Linked DNA regions of Homo sapiens: region 2 is linked to region 1. Evidence: fine-mapped expression QTL. A gene starts in region 1. The other region holds a variant in brackets. All regions are shown on one strand. Distances are between the middles of the regions.

Region 1 (8,530 bases):
TATATTGGCTAACACATCCAGAAAAATATTAAGTAATAGCTGTAAAAATGGATAAACTGCTTTTGTTCTTGACTTCAAGTTTGGGAGCACTTTTATGGTGCCCCCATTAAGTATGATGCTGAATAATTTTTTGTATTTTTAGTAGAGATGGGGTTTCACCATGTTAGCCAGGATGGTCTTGATCTCCTGACCTTCTGATCCGCCCACTTCGGCCTCCCAAAGTGCTAAGATTATACAGTGAGCCACCGCCCAGCCCAGAGTGCACTTTTTTCAATCCTCCCTGCAATTGGCTACTTTTAGGATCCTGCTGATTGGTGCATTTTACAGAACACTGATTGGTGCATTTTACAGCATGCTGATTGGTGTGTTTTACAGAGTGCTGATTGGTGCATTTTACAATCCTCTTGCTAGCTACAGCGTGCTGATTGGTGCGTTTTACAGAGCGCTGATTGGTGCATTTTACAATCTGCTTGCTAGCTACAGAGCGCTGATTGGTGCGTTTTACAGAGCACTGATTGGTGCATTTTACAATTCTCTTGCTAGCTACAAAGCATTGATTGGCGCATTTTTACAGAGTGCCGATTGGTGCATTTTACAATCCTCTTTAAAGACAGAAAAGTTCTCCAAGTCCCCACTCAACCCAGGAAGTCCAGCTGGCTTCACCTGTCACTACCAACGTCATTTTTCAAGGAACTAGAAAAAATTATTCTAAAATCTACATGGAATCAGAAAGACTCTGAATAGCGAAAGCAATCCTAAGTGGAAAGAATAAAGCCAGAGGCATCACATTACTGGACTTCAAGCTATACTACAAGGCTACAGTAACCAAAACAGCATGGTATTGGTTAAAAAAAAAACAACACCTATGGTCATCTGATCTTTGGCAAGGTTGATAATAACAAGCAAAGGGGAAAGAACACTGTATTCAATAAATTGTGCTAAGATAGTTGGCTAGCTATATGCAAAAGAATAAAACTGGAGCCCCACTTTTCACCGTATATTAAAATTAACTCAAAACAAATTGAGAATTTAAATGTAACCCTTCAAGCTATAAGAATCGTAGAAGAAATCCTGGGAAACACCATTCTGGACATTGGCTTTGGGAAATAATTTATGACTAAATCCTCAAAAGCAATTGCAACAAAACCAAAACTTGACAAATGGGACCTAATTAAAGCAAAGAACTTCTGCACAGCAAAAGAACCTATCAACAGAGTAAACAGACAACTTACAATGGGAGAAAATATTCATAATTTATGCATCCAACAAAGGTTCAATATCAGAATCTATAAGGAACTTAACTGAACAAACAAGAAACAAATATCCCCATTAAAAATGGGCAAATGGCTGGGAGAGGCGGCTCACACCTGTAATCCCAGAACTTTTGGAGCCCAAGGAGGGCAGATTACGAGGTTGGGAGTTCAAGACCAGCCTGTCCAACATGGTGAAACCCCAACTCTATTAAAAATACAAAAAGTAGCCAGGCGTGGTGGTGTGCGCCTGTAATCCCAGCTACTTGGGAGGCTTAGGCAGGAGAATTGCTTGAACCCAGGACATAGAGGGTGCAGTGAGCCAAGATTGTGCCATTGCACTCCAGCCTGGGCAATACAGTAAGACTCCATGTAAATAAATAAATATATAAATAAATAAATAAAATAAAATGGGCAAAACACATAAATAGGAACTTCTCAAAAGAAGACATACAAGTGGCCCACAAACATATAAAAAAATGCTCAACATCACTAATCATCAGAGAAAAGCAAATGAAAATCACAATTAGATACCATCTCACACCAGTCGGAATAGCTATTATTAAAAAGCCAAAAAATAACATGCTGTTGAGGCTGCAGAGAAATGGGAACACTTATACTCTGTTGGTGAAAATGTAAATTAGTTCAGTTACTGTGGAAAGCAGTTTGGAGATTTCTTTTCTTTTTTTTTTCTTCAAGACAGAGTCTTGCTCTGTCACGCATGCTGGAGTGCAGTGGTACGATCTCGGCTCACTGCAACTTCTGCCTCCCAGGGTCAGGCAATTCTCCTGCCTCAGCCTCCAGAGTAGCTGGGATTACGGTCACCCACCACCACACCCAGCTAATTTTTGTGTTTTTAGTAGAGACAGGGTTTCACCATGTTGGCCAGGCTGGTCTCAAACTCCTGACCTAAGGTGATCTGCTCCACTCGGCCTCCCAAAGTGCTGGGATTACAGGCGTGATCCACTGTGCCCGGCCTGGAGATTTCTTAAATAACTTAAAACAGAACTACCATTTGATCCAGCAATCCCATTACTGGGTATACATCCAAAAGAAAATAAATTATCCTACCAAAAAAACACATGCATTTGTATGTTCATTGCAGCACTGTTCACAATAGCAATGACATGGAGTCAACCTCGGTGCCCATCGATGGTGGACTGGATAAAGAAAATGTACAAACACGCTATGGAATACTTCACAGCCATAAAAAGTATGAAGTCATGTCTTTTGCTGAAATATGAATGTAGCTTGAGGCTGTTATCCTAAGTGAAATAATGCAGGAACAAAAATCCAAATGCTACATGCTCTCAGTTATAAGTAGAAGCTAAATAATGAGTATTCGTGGATATAAGGATGGTAACAACAGGCCAGATGCAGTGGCTCACGCCTGTAATCCCAGCACTTTGGAAGGCTGAGATGGGTGGATCACGAGGTCAGGGGTTTGAGACCAGCCTGGCCAACATGGTGAAACTCTATCTCTTCTAAAAATACAAAAATTAGCTGGGTGTGGTGGCGGTCACCTGTAATACCAGCTACTTGGGAGGCTGAGGCAGAATCACTTGAACCTGGGAGGCAGAGGTTGCAGTGAGCCGAGATTGCGCCATTGTACTCCAGCCTGGGCAACAAGGGCGAAGCTTGGCCTCAAAAAAAAAAAACAAACAACAACAACAAAAAAAAACAAAACCTGAAAATCTAATATTTAAAATTAAGAACTCAATGTATAGATTTAACAGCAGATTGGAGATTATAGAAGATAGACTCAATAACCTGAAAAACAGAAAACCTTCAAACTGAATAATTGAAAAAAAAATTGACATCACAAAGTGTAAAAGACACGGTGAACAAGATCAAATAATCTTACATATGGGCTGGGTGCCGTGGCTCATGCCTGTAATCCCAGCACTTTGGGAGGCTGAGGCAGGTGGATCACCGGAGGTCAGGAGTTGAAGACCGGCCTGACCAACATGGTGAAACCCTATCTCTACTAAAAATACAAAAATTAGCCGGGCGTGGTGGTGGGCGCTTGTAATTCTGGCTACTCGATAATAATACTATTATAATAGTATTATCTACCTCAGTAGATAATACTGCTGAGGCAGGATTATCGCTTGAACCCGGGAGGCAGAGGCAGAGGTTGCAGTGAGACGAGATTGCGCCACTGCACTCCAGCTTGAGCAAAAAGAGTGAAACTCTGTCTCAATAATAATAATAATAATCTTACATATGTAATTGGTGTCTCGGAGAACAGGCATAGAGAATGCAGCAAAAACCATATCTGAAGAGATAATGATTGAGAATTTCTCAAAACTGATGCAAGACATCTACCCACAAATCAGAGAAACTCAATGATATCCAAGACAGATAAATACAAAGAAAACAAAGATAGGGCACAAAATAAATGGCTAAAAATCACTAACAGGCTGGGTGCGGTGGCTCACGCCTGTAATCCCAGCACTTTGGGGGGCTGAGGCGGGCAGATCACGAGGTCAGGAGATCGAGATTATCCTGGCTAACTTGGTGAAACCCGGTCTCTACTAAAGAAATACAAAAAAAATTAGCCAAGCGTGGTGGTGGACGCCTGTAGTCCCAGCTACTCAGGAGGCTGAGGCAGGAGAATGGCGTGAACCCGGGAGGCAGAGCTTGCAGTGAGCCGAGATGGCGCCACTGCACTGCAGCCTGGGCGACAGAGCGACACTCCTCTAAAAAAAAAAAAAAAATCACTGACAAAGAGAAACTGTTAAAAAGAAGTGAGAGGGCCTGGTGTGGTGGTTCACGCCTGTAATTCGAGCACTGTGGGAGGCCCAGGTGGGAGGATCACTTGAGCTCAGGGGTTCAAGACCAGCCTGGGCAACATAGGGAGATGTCATCGCTACAAAAATAATGATAGTAATAGTAATAAAAAATTAGCCGGGCGTGGTGCAGGAGCCTGTGGTCGCAGGTACCCTGGAAGATGAGGTGGGAGGATCGCTTGAGCCCAGGAGGCAGAGGTTACAGCGAGCCTAGGGTGTGCCACGGCACTCCGGCTTGGGCGAGACAGCAAGACCCTGTTTGGAAAAAAAAAAAAAAGAAAAGAAAAAAGAAAAAAAAATCAACAGTAATTGCAGCCATTGCTTAGAACTAAGACTAAACAAAGCTTTTGTTTGGAAAGGAGTACTTTTTCATTAACATTGTTTAGAATTTTCTGACACATGATGATAATTAAAAGCAAACCATCCTGCAGTTGGCTTCGGTATTGTTTTTATCTTCTCCACCATCAATGCATATCCTTACTGCCTACACAGGCTCTCAGCAACGCACTGTTGGTTTTCCATTGCAGTCACCTCCACTTTATTCTTCCAGATCGAGTATGTTCAAAACTGAACTCATCTTCCGCCATAAATCTGCTATTATTATGTTTTTGCCTGTCAGGACATCGGCTTATAATTTTGGAAAGCATTCACAGTTGGGGCGGGTAAGACATAGATAAAGAGGCCAATCACAATACCAGGGGTAAGATCAATAGGAAAACCAGAGAGCGGACGCCTGGGCCAGGCCTCACAACGTCCAGAGCTGGAATGGGTCTTTTGCTTTCGGCGCAGGGGTGACGGGATCAGCGGAGGGTAGGGGTGTACACTAGCTGCGGTCTGATTTAGCCCTTTTAGGTTAAAAGCTGGAGAAGGGGCTGAAGTCTCAAACGCGCTTAGCAGCTCCTGAACGCGGTTCCCATCCCAGCGCGTTCTGAGGGAGGCCGGGGCTAAGGACGCGGTGACGGGCGGGGGCGGGGCGGCCCCGGGTCGGGAGGCGGGGCGGGAGCGCCGGAAGCGGGCGGTGCCAGGCCCAGCCTCGCAGGCGGAAGGGCGCGGAGGAGGTGACGCGATAGGCCAGCGCCGGCGTCGCGGCAGCCGCTTCAGAGGAAGCTCGGCGGCTGTGGCCGCGGCGAACAGGCCGGACGCCTCGTCGCTGGCGGGGCTTCCCTTGGAGCTGACGAAGGCGGGGTCCGCGGTCCAGGCTGCTGCCGCGACGGGGCCGGCGGCGGGGCAGCTGCCAGGAACGAGGGTAGCAGGTAAGCGGGGACGCGGGCAGACGAGTGACGGACTCAGCGATCGCCTGGCGGGGCTGGCTGGGGCCATTCCCGCGCCGGTGCGCCACCTCAGCGCCCGGTCCGGAGGCCTCGAGCCGCCCTCCCCCGCCCGAGCTGGAGGCCGCCGTCCGTCTCGGCCACAGCCTCCCTTTCCGGGGGAGGCGAGCGAGCTCGTCCCGAGGGGCCGCTGCCCTGCGCTCTCGCTCCAGCCGGGCTGTGCGTCGCAGGCACCGGGAAGCTGGCGCCCCCCAGCTCCTCCTGAAGCCGGGAAAGCTCTGAGAGGAGGAGCCGCTGTCACAGGCCTCCAGCTCCGGCCGCCGTGGAAGTCCGGGGTTTTTATTTGCTTAGACCGCTCTGCCTCCTTCCGGCCTTCGTTTCTTTCCTCGCGCTCCCCGGGACCCTTTTCCAGAGAGCCCGGTTGGGCATGAGCGCGGTGGGAGACGTCTTTTCCCTTCGGTCTGCTCTGAGCGGTATCAGCCTCCGCTCTACGCCCTGTGGCCACTCTGTCGGGGTGGAGGGATGCGGAGAGGATGTGGGAGTTTTGGACTTAGAGCGAGAATAGCCGAGGTGAAATCCTACCCTGCTCTCTGGTAGTGTTTTTCATCTCATGCTAGATAGACATTTCGACCTTTTTCACCGCAGGTAAAGTGGGACTTTCTTCTACCAATGTAAATTATAATGTTTGGAGAATTAAATGAAGAAAGCAGACGTTAGTTATGAAATGTTTTGAGAATCTGGTTAAATTTAATTTAAGAATATCCAGGACACTTCATGATAGGTTCCTACTTATGTTTTTTTTTTGCATTTTGCCCGGAATAACTAAGCTTGGTATGGAAAAGGTTGCCTAGAGATGCCAGGCGCTCGTGTGGTCAGAGCCTAACTGCAGTCTCTGTTTTGGGTGGGCAGCATCAGGAAGAAACCAGACTCTCTCCTAGCCATCCACATGTCTCACGCTTATTGATGGCATATTATTGGTATATGAGGGATGGCTTATATCAGTTTTGATCTTTACTCAAGATAGCTTTTTCCCAGTGCATCTTTTCTAGGAGAAAAGCTTGGTATGTAGAGGAGGGTGCTGGGGAGGGGGGCTTCATTTACACCTGGGCTCACAATTTTTTTTTGGAGGGGGGACAGGGTCTCACTCTGACACCCAGCCTGGAGTGCAGTGGCGCGATCTTTTCAGCTCACTGCAACCTCCTCCTCCCAGGTTCAAGCGATTCTCCTGCCTCAGCCTCCAGAGTAGCTGGGATTACAGGTGCCCGCCATCGCGCCCGGCTAATTTTTGTATTTTTAGTAGACATGGGGTTTCACCATGTTGGCCAGGCTGGTCTCGACCTCCTGACCTCAAGTGATCTACCTGCTTCCGCCTCTCAAAAGTGCTGGGATCAGCCGGGCGCGGTGGTTGACGCCTGTAATCCCAGCACTTTGGGAGGCCGAGGCGGGCAGATCACCTGAGGTCGGGAGTTCGAGATCAGCCTAACCAACATGGTGAAACCCCATCTCTACTAAAAATACAAAATTAGCCAGGCGTGGTGGCGCATGCCTGTAATCCCAGCTACTCGGAAGGCTGAGGCAGGAGACTAGCTTGAACCCGGGAGGCGAGGTTGTGGTGAGCTGAGATAGTGCCATTACACTCCAGCCTGGGCAACAAGAGCAAAACTCCGTCTCAAAAAAAAAAAAAAAAAAAAAAAAAGGTGCTGGGATTACAGGAGTGAGTCACTGCGCCTGGGCTATATTACTTTCTAAATCAGCCTTTTTTTTTTTTTTTGGTAGGCCATTATGTGAATCCTTCAAAAATCATAGAAAAATTGAAATTTAACAATATTTTGCTTTTATTCTAGCTTGTCATAAACCCAGTGCTCTATACACAGGCCTGCCTTTCTGCCTCCTTCATCCTGGCATGCATGGCCATTTACTTTGTGTTATTAGCCAGCTTCCTATGGAGCTCAGTTTGAGAACGGGGTTCTGTGCTTCTCTAGTTGCCAAACATCTGATTGAAGTAGATCACCTTGGCATTTGCGATATTAAGCATGTCTTTGCGAATTTTTAGTTCCTTTTTCTTTTCTTGGTTAGATTGTACTCTGTCACTGATTTAAAGAATTTGGTAGACGCTCAGAAAGGGTCAACTGGTAAGGTGGTCACAGTGCTTTACATGTATTTTTCTTACCTATTATGGTGAAACCCTTGTGACTTTTTTTGGGCGTGGGTAATATTTTCAAAATTAAGGTAAATAGGCCATCAGGCTGCGTTGAACTTTCTCTTTTAGGGAAATATATTCATTCTCCAATTATTCTTTGGTAGCCTTCTTATTGCTTTAGCAATTCCTACTCTATTATTAGTAGAGCCGGAAATGGACCCTACATCACAGATTCTCCAAATATACTAAATTATTTTTTCTCTAAAATGATCATGTTTATAGCATGTTGATTTTCTTTTTTTTTCTTTTGAGACAGAGTTTCACTCTTGTGCAGGCTGGAGGGCAACAGCTTGATCTCTGCTCACTGCAACTTCCGCCTCCCGGGTTCAAGTGATTGTCCTGTCTCAGCCTCCCAAGTAGCTGGGATTACAAGCGCCCACCACCACGCCCGGCTAATTTTTGTATTTTTAGTAGAGATGGGGTTTCACCATGTTGGCCAGGCTGGTCTTGAACTCCTGACCTCAAGTGATCTCTCCGTCTCAGCCTCCCAAAGCGCGGGGATTACAGGTGTGAGCCACTGTATCCGGTCAGCAGCATGTTGATTTTCTACAACCAGATGACAAAGGATATCCTAAAGTCAGTGATTTAAAAAGTCATGTTGGCTTGGTGCGGTGGCTCATGCCTGTAATCCCAGCACTTTGGGAGGCCGAGGCGGGTGGATCACGAGTCAGGAGTTAGAGAACAGCCTGGCCAACATGGTGAAACTCCGTCTGTACTGAAAATACAAAAAAATTAGCTGGGCATGGTGGCGGGCGCCTATAATCCCAGCTACTCGGGAGGCTGAGGCAGGAGAATCGTTTGAACCCATGAGGTAGAGGTTGCAGTGAGCCGAGGTTGCACCATTGCATTCCAGCTTTGGCAACAGGGTGAGACTCTGTCTCAGAAAAAAAAACAAAAAACAAGTGATGGTAACACATAGGTTGTCTAATACATTCAGAGTCTAGAGAGACCTGGTATGTATCTGAGAAACCAAATAGCTGAATCTCTAAAATTTTATTTTTGTGTCTGGAATACCTTAAT
Region 2 (8,000 bases), 60 kb after region 1:
CATGCACCACCACACCTGGCTGATTTTTTATTTATTTATTTTTCTTGAGACAAGGTCTGGCTCTGTCACCCAGGCTGGAGTGCAGTGGTGCAATCTCTGCTCAGTGCAACCTCCGCCTCCCAGGCTCAAGCCATCCTTTGAACCTCAGCCTACCAAGTAACTGCGACTACCAGTGCACACCACCACGCCCGGTTAGTTTTTGTATTTTTTTGTAGATACAGTGTTTCGCCATGTCACCCAGGCTGGTCCTGAACTCTTGAGCTCAAACCATCTGTTGGCCTCTCAAAGTGCTGGGATTACAGGCGTGAGCCACTGAGCCCGGCCTGATTTTTTATTTTTTTGTAGAGACAGAGTCTCATTATGTTGCCCAGGCTGGTCTCAAACTCCTGGGCTCAAGCAGTTTTTCCGCCTCAGCCTCCCAATGTACTGGGATTACAGGTGTGAGCCACCGTGCCTGGCCCCTTATACCATTTTCTAATACTATGATTCCTTTCTAAACAAGAGTTGAATCCAGGTTAAATATGTATATGAGAAAATGAGGTAAACAAGGAGCCAAGTCTTCAGGCACTTGACACACAGGTTTAGTAGATTAACTGGAAAACTGTACTTTGTATATCTTTATTTTTGTATTATTGTTGTGTATTATAGCTTAATAGTTACAAGCATGGGCTTAGAGTAAGACCTGGGTTCAAATTCTGGTTCATTGCTTCCTACTTTTTTGCCCTTGTGCAGGTCAAAGGTCAGCAAATGGAAGCTGCTGGTTTTTGGTGGTTTGGATAGCCTGTGGTGATGGCTGCATTTCTTTCTCTTTTCTTGATCAGGTGGATTTGTTTAAAAAGAGTCTTCTGTTGATTCCTATTCACCTGGAAGTCCACTGGTCTCTCATTACTGTGACACTCTCTAATCGAATTATTTCATTTTATGATTCCCAAGGCATTCATTTTAAGTTTTGTGTAGAGGTAAGTTAATATACTGCCTATTTTTTCATTTATTTTGTAATTGGCCAAATAGCATCTTAGCTCTAGATAGAACAGCAGCAGTCAAAACCATATAGGAACAGTTTATGTCATGAAAATCCTCCAAAGTGTTAGCTGAGAAAAGGACTAGAAGAGGAATCTCTGGCTGAGGAGAGGATCTGTCTAGGATCCAGATCCCCCTCTGAGATACTCCACTTGGATTTTCTCTGCTTTTCCCTTAAAACTACATCTTGAATGTGGTTAGAAATTGTTTTTCTTTGATCATCTTAGAGCTAAAATTGGCCTGTATCTGCAAAATAACTCCTGTAGAATAAACTATAACCTAATGGAATCAATTGACAAAATATTAGTGTTCAGCTAATAAACAGATGGTGGGATACAAAATCAAGAAAAATGAGTAGGTTTCCGGATTTTCCTGCACTACCAAGAACCAGTAAGAAAATGTAACTGGGAATAAGATTCCATTTATAAAAGAAACAAAACATAAATAACCCAGGAATATGCCCTAGGAAGAAATGTGGAAATTCTTTATTATGAAAACTCCTAAAGCTTTAAGTACTTAAAAGAAATCTGTACAAAACTGTAAAAGTATTTGAATGAAATATGGAAAATGTTATGTTCACAGAGTGGGGAAGGACTTCTTAACATGGAACCAAAGAAAAGACATAAGGAACAATTGGATAAATTTAACCACCTAATAATTTAAAACTTCTGTATATCATAAAGTTAAAGGACAAGCAACAGACTTGGAGAAAATATGTATGATGCAAATAACAGACAATAACTATCCAGAATACATGGAAAACTCCTACAAATGAATAAGGGGAGGATAAAAGGACATAATAGAAATGGACAAAGGCTAATTTAGTAAATTTTAGGAAAAATGCAAATGACCATTTAAAAACACAGAGAGGTGTTCAGCCTTACCAGAAATTATAGAAATGCAAATGAAAACTACATCAGTTAAATTTTTTGCCCATTATGTTAGAAAAAGTGATGCTATTCAAGTGTCTATGTAAGTGTAAGGAAATAGGCATTCTCATATTTTCTGGTTAGAGTGTATAAATTGATACAGCCGCTTGGGGATAGTTGCAGTTCTCATCAGTTCTAAGTGCTTTGTAAATTAAAAAGATACAAATTCTGTTGCATATCAGTTCCATTTCTTGTTATCTACTGCATAAAAATGCTTGTATATGCACACAAGAATGAGGCATGTGCGAGGATGTTCATGGCAGCATTATTTATAATAGTGCAAAATAAAACAACCCAAATTTAGCTCTAGCAAGAGAATAGCTAAATACACTATGGTACGGTATACCCATACTATTAAACTGACCATAGTAGTTAAATTGAATATAGTAGACCTTCAAGTCCTCAAATGGAAAGATGTCCAAGGCATAGAGCTTTAAAAAGCCAATTGTGGAATGATACGGTATAGTACACAAATACATGCAGGTGTATGTGTAGACACATATATACATACATATTTGTAAGTAAAAAGGTGGGACCTTACCATTTTTTATATCAATGATTATTACCTTTGGGTAAGTGTAGAAAAGCAGGACTAATAGTTAAAGAGGATTTGGCCTCATTTTGCGTTTTTTTTTTTACAAGGAGAATATTTTCTTGTATTATTTGTTTAATTAACATTTAATTTAAAAATTAAGTATAATGCAAACTATGAGGAAAATCAAGTTTTCGAAATCCACATTTTCATTTCCAAGAAATCCAGGAAAAAAAATACCCCAAAAACAAGAAGCCTCGTGGGCCCAGAGTTCTCACAATACCAGATGTGAGCGTCTTTTCCAGTTCCCTTCCCCTAATTCCTTGCCTTTCTCTCAACCAACATATTCCCATACCTGCCAGAGCCTGTCTATATTGTCTCTTTCCTAGACAGACCTGCAAAGGTATAACCAAAAGTGCAGCCATATCAGTGCCTTTAAGACTCAGATTCTGACAGGCAGAGGAGAGCAGAGGTGTTGGGAAAACTGTTTCAAGTAGGAACTATTTACTGTGCCTCTTGCTTTGTGCCAGGCACTGATGCTAGGGAGTCAGGTAGGGGCCAGAGAAACATTCGCCTTCATGGAGTGAATGATGGTTAAACAGGATTTTGTTTGTAAAACATGCAGTTGGGTTTAAGTCGATTTTGAATCATTAGGGCCTGGTTCTGCACAGTAATAAAAATTCATCTTCTGAATTTTTGCCCAAGCCCTCCTGCAGAGTTCTTACCTTTTCAGCAAAATTACAATTGGCCTAATAATTTTGCACATTTGCAAAAAGACCCTAAGAACAGACTCCTTTTAGGTGATAGCTAGAAGTCATTTAGAGCCAAATACAGTTCAGTCATCTGGCCAGGTGGGGTCAAGCTGTTTTTAGTTTTAAGAGGATGTAGGGGTTGTAGAAGTGGCTCTTAACTAAGGGGCCTGTATTTCCAAAGAATTGACAAAAAGTGTTTTAAACAGTCACCACATAAATGTGTAGATTCCATGACAGCAGAGACTACAAGAGCTTTATTCACTAGTGTCCCCAGCACTTGAACCCTTAGAGATGCTCAGTACATTTTGAGTGCCGGTGACCATTTTTAAGGACAAATCCTTTTTGCCTGTATTTTACTTAAGAATGTACATATACTGGCCGGGCAGGGTGGCTCACGCCTGTGATCCCAGCACTTTGGGAGGCTGAGGCGGGCGGATCAGAAGGTCAAGAGATAGAGACCAGCCTGGCCAACATGGTGAAACCCCGTCTCTATTAAAAATACAAAAATTAGCTGGGCATGGTGGTGCACGCCTGTAGTCCCAGCTACTCGGGAGGCTGAGGCAGGAGAATCGCTTGAACCTGGGAGGTGGAGGTTGCAGCGAGCCGAGATCGCACCACTACACTCTAGCCTGGGTAACAGAGCAAGACTCCGTCT[CA/C]AAAAAAAAAAAAAAAGAATTTATATATACTGCTTATTCTGAGAACTTGAAGTTACTTCTTTAGAGGGAGCAGTGCAACATGCTGTCATACTTTGTTGGATATTAAGTATTTGCTTTCATCATGTTTTTTCTTCTGAAGAGGTGGCTTCCAGTCCACCTTTTTTTTTTTTTTTTTGAGTCAGAGTCTCACTCTGTCCCCTGGGTTGGAGTGCAGTGGCCCAGTCTTGGCTCATGGCAACCTCCGCCTCCTGGGTTCAAGCGATTCTCATGTCTCAGCCTCTGGAGTAGCTGGGATTACAGGTGTGCACCACCACACCTGGCTAATTTTTGTATTTTTAGTAGAAATGGGGTTTCACCATGTTGGTCAGGCTGATCTTGAACTCCTGACCTCACCTCATGTGATCCACCTGCCTCAGCCACCCAAAGTGCTGGGATTACAGGTGTGAGCCACCGCGTCTGGCCCTGGTCCACTTTTGTTGGGGGGTGGGGTGGGTTATTCACATAACCTCTGACTTCACTCTTGATGTGGAGAGAGACGCACAGAGGTTGAGAGCACTGGGGACATTTTGAAACTCCAGCAGGCTTCATCTTGGTAGATAGTTCAACAGTGGACTTGAGCATATTTAGTATTCAGAAGGAATTTTAGTATTACTTTCCAGAAGCTGAATGTTAACCTTTTCTGCAGCCCTCAAAAATAAGGAGTGTATCAGAATATCTAAGGCTGGAATATTTTTCATTTAGTTTTAGTTATTAATGATGTCTGCCATGGGTTCCTTTCCTCTGTTGAGCATGGGCAATGATGAAGACTTTCTTTTTGACTTGCCAGTATGTAAGTTTCAAATGCAGCAAGCTGACTTACTGCTGGGAAGGGCTGGCTAACCATCTCATAAAACGTTCTGATTACACAAATGCCAGCGTCCACAGTCTTGATGCATACCTTGAATACAGAAGGTCTGACTCCCCCTTAACAATATGAAATGAAGAGTCTGAAATAAAGTCCCGGCTTTAGCCGGGAGCGGTGGTGTACACCTATAGTCCCAGCTACTTGGAAGGCTGAGGTAGGAGGATCTCTGAAGCCTAGGAGTTCAAGGCTGCAGTGAGCTATGATCACGCCATTGTACTCCAGCCTGGGTGACAGAGCAAGATCCTCTCTTTAAAAAAAAAAAAAAAAAAAATTGTTCCAGCTTCTTAATGCATATTCTGCCCAGTTATGGGGCCACAGCCTCCTCCTTTCCTTCTGTCTGCTATGGGCATGTTCCATTTTTCACCAACTGATGGAACACAGCATCTGTGTTGTGGTTTCTTTTTAACCAGAATATAAGAAAGTATTTGCTGACTGAAGCCAGAGAAAAAAATAGACCTGAATTTCTTCAGGGTTGGCAGACTGCTGTTACGAAGGTAAGTATGTGATAACAATGAAACCCAGGCATGTCCAGGGGATGGAATTATCTAAGGGTGGGTGCCTTTAAGAGCATTTGAAGACTAGTGACAGAGATACCAAGGAGAGCCTGGAGGCTCCAGGGAGGCAGCTGAGAATGAACTTCAGTTGACTATTCATCATCGCTGCTCAGTTGCCCAGTGCTTCCCGGGAGCAAATCACTTCAGTCATTTCCTCCCTGAGGAAGTTGCTAATGATGTGTTTGCTCTTCTGGGGAAAAAAAAAATCTTTTTTGGGTGGCACTTGCCTCTTGCATCATGGCTCTTATTTCCAGATGACCCATATAGACCCAGAGAAATGCTGAAATGACTATTTGGATCCACTGAGGGGGAGAAAGTGCATTGAGCTACTTGGCAGGCATGTGGGGAAGATAGTAGCCCAAGCGCTTCAGTCCCACCACTGTCTGGATGCAGCACCATGCTTGGCCCATGACATTCAAACTGTGGGGCAGAGTGCCCAGGCACAGCCGCTCATTCCTGTCGTAAATACCAGTGTCTTCATTGATGGTGGGCTGTGTTGTTTCCAGTGTTTTTGTGTATTGGATCTCATTTGATCCTTATAACCTGTGAGGTAGGCAGGTCATTTAGGGATAAGCATCGTCTTTATTTTGTAAATGAGAAAACTGAAGCCCAGGTGTGATTTTCCCCAAAGGACATCAAAACTATTGATACAGAGTCAGGTCCTTGAACACAGGTCTGTCTGGATCATTGACAGGATGTTATAGGCAGGATCTTGAAACAAACCTTTAACCCAAACCCAAAGAGACAAGATTTATTAGTTCACCCTTGAACCGAACCAAATGCTAAATTTTAAAATTAAGCTTAAGTTTTGTGTTTTGAATAACCTAGTATACCAGTTCAAACCAGAACTAGTAAATTTCCTGAATTTACCCAACTAAAAAATCTGGGTATTCTAAATTTAGTCAGGATCTTCTGTATTACCGCTTTGAGCAGAATACAGTAACCAGTTCTTTTAAAAACATACTGTTGGCCGGGCACAGTGGCTCACACCTGTAATCCCAGCACTTTGGGAGGCAAAGGTGCGTGGATTGCGTGAGTCTAGGAGTTCAAGACCAGCCTGGGCAACATGGTGAGACCTCATCTCTACAAATAATAAAATTAGCCAGGCGTAGTCCCAGCTACTTGGGATGCTGAGGTGGGAGGATTGCTTGAACTCAGGAGACTGAGATCGTGCCACTGCACTCCAGCCTGGGCGACAGAGTGAGACCCTGTCGCGAAAAACCCAAAACAAAAACCATACTGTTTACCTTCACGATTTCTTTCAAAGAATAGGACAGGGTCGTGTGATGTGAGATCAGAAGTGAAGACTGCTCAGCGGAGTTGTCGCCATCCTAGCATCCAGAGGCTGGGCCTTTGTTCTCCCAGGCACAGTTCCATTTTGACTCCACTGTCAATGAATTGATAGCAGAGCTCAGTATCCAAATGCATGTTTTAAAACAGGTTTTTACATTTGATTTCCCATTTCTCATATTTAGGTAAAACATTGTCCTATAAATTGGGGTTGCCACCTGATAGCTCTTTTTATGTGGCCAGGTGCCTCCATAAAATTAGATGCTTGAGATATCAGATATACCAGCTGTCCTGGAGAGAGAAAAGTTTCCTATCTTTTGCGCATTTTTCCATAAAGGAGTTTTTCTTATCTGAAGAGAAGTAATGGATCTTGTTTTAATGACTATTTTGTTTTTCCCTTCAGTGTATTCCACAACAGAAAAACGACAGTGACTGTGGAGTCTTTGTGCTCCAGGTAAAGAAACACTTGCTTTTCGGAACTTACAATGTGTGAATTGAGTCTGTTGGGTTGAGAGGGGAGAGATGGCAGTTCCTGTATGTGTATATGATGCTAGGTACGAGCAACGGAGTACTTTCCCTCCCCTTTATTGCTGAGGAGCAGTAGTTTCTGCATGTTCAGATGTTATCATTAGGAAGAACCACCTTCCAGGGATCAAGAGTGAAGTGTGGGTGTCATCCATGTCTCACTGGAGGTTATTAGTAAGCCACATTGGAGACTGACTTGAATTTGTCCATATCATAACCATTGGCATTTGCATAAAAAAAAAAAAAAAAAAACATTGGCAAGCAATCTGCAGGTCTTTGACACAGTGATTAGATTTTAAATAAGGTCCACGTTGAGAAACTGCCATCTTGTGCTGTAGATCTCCTTAGAGATCGAAAAGGGCTATGGAAAAAAATTCAGTTATACATATATTTATGTTGGAAATTACAGAATATGATGCATGAATTTAGAGATTTGCAAAGATCTTGGAAGACCGGTTCGTTTGTATACCTCATGCATGTTTGGGGTTTTATAAACAAATTCAAGTTCCCATTAAGGGCCATGATGGGTCTAGCTGCACTCCAGCAGGTTGCACTTTGGGAGGAATTGAGGCCTTTTCATCAGTTGCTGCTTTTCACAGTATTGGGTCAGGAGGGAGAGGAGATCCCAAGCCATGCACTAGCTTGGTCAGTCACCTATAATTTGGGTAAATGCTTAAAACAGTGTATTTTTACAGTAGTTTAAACAGACATGAAAATGCTGCCTTAGATCGGGGTCCCAAACCCCTGGGCCACGGACAGATACTGTCCACATTAGGTTCTCTTAGGAGTGTGAACCCTGTTGTGAACTGCAGATGCGAGGGATCTAGGTTGCTCACCC

Which allele goes with the higher level. Alleles are on the strand shown, and positions count from the first base shown. SD is a standard deviation of normalised expression in the study named.
As copies of CA replace C in region 2, the expression in monocytes of the gene that starts at base 5,142 in region 1 goes down (small effect, 0.34 SD a copy in Quach 2016).

Evidence for each region. PIP is the estimated chance that this variant, and not a neighbour inherited with it, causes the effect.
Region 2: its variant is the best candidate, but not a certain one, in a credible set for the expression of SENP5 in monocytes (Quach 2016, PIP 0.70).

Annotation. Positions count from the first base shown.
Region 1 is chr3:196,862,779-196,871,308 of GRCh38, forward strand. It overlaps SENP5 (SUMO specific peptidase 5), which reads left to right and starts at 5,142. Exons shown (of 10, transcript NM_152699.5): 1 at 5,142-5,295. RefSeq lists a silencer at 4,919-5,498 and an enhancer at 6,150-6,651.
Region 2 is chr3:196,922,593-196,930,592 of GRCh38, forward strand. SENP5 (SUMO specific peptidase 5) reads left to right here. Exons shown (of 10, transcript NM_152699.5): 7 at 822-959; 8 at 5,204-5,287; 9 at 7,041-7,091. Among named protein-coding and RNA genes, the nearest start is that of NCBP2-AS1, 13 kb to the right of the region's middle. The variant CA/C (reference allele first, on the strand shown) is at 3,889.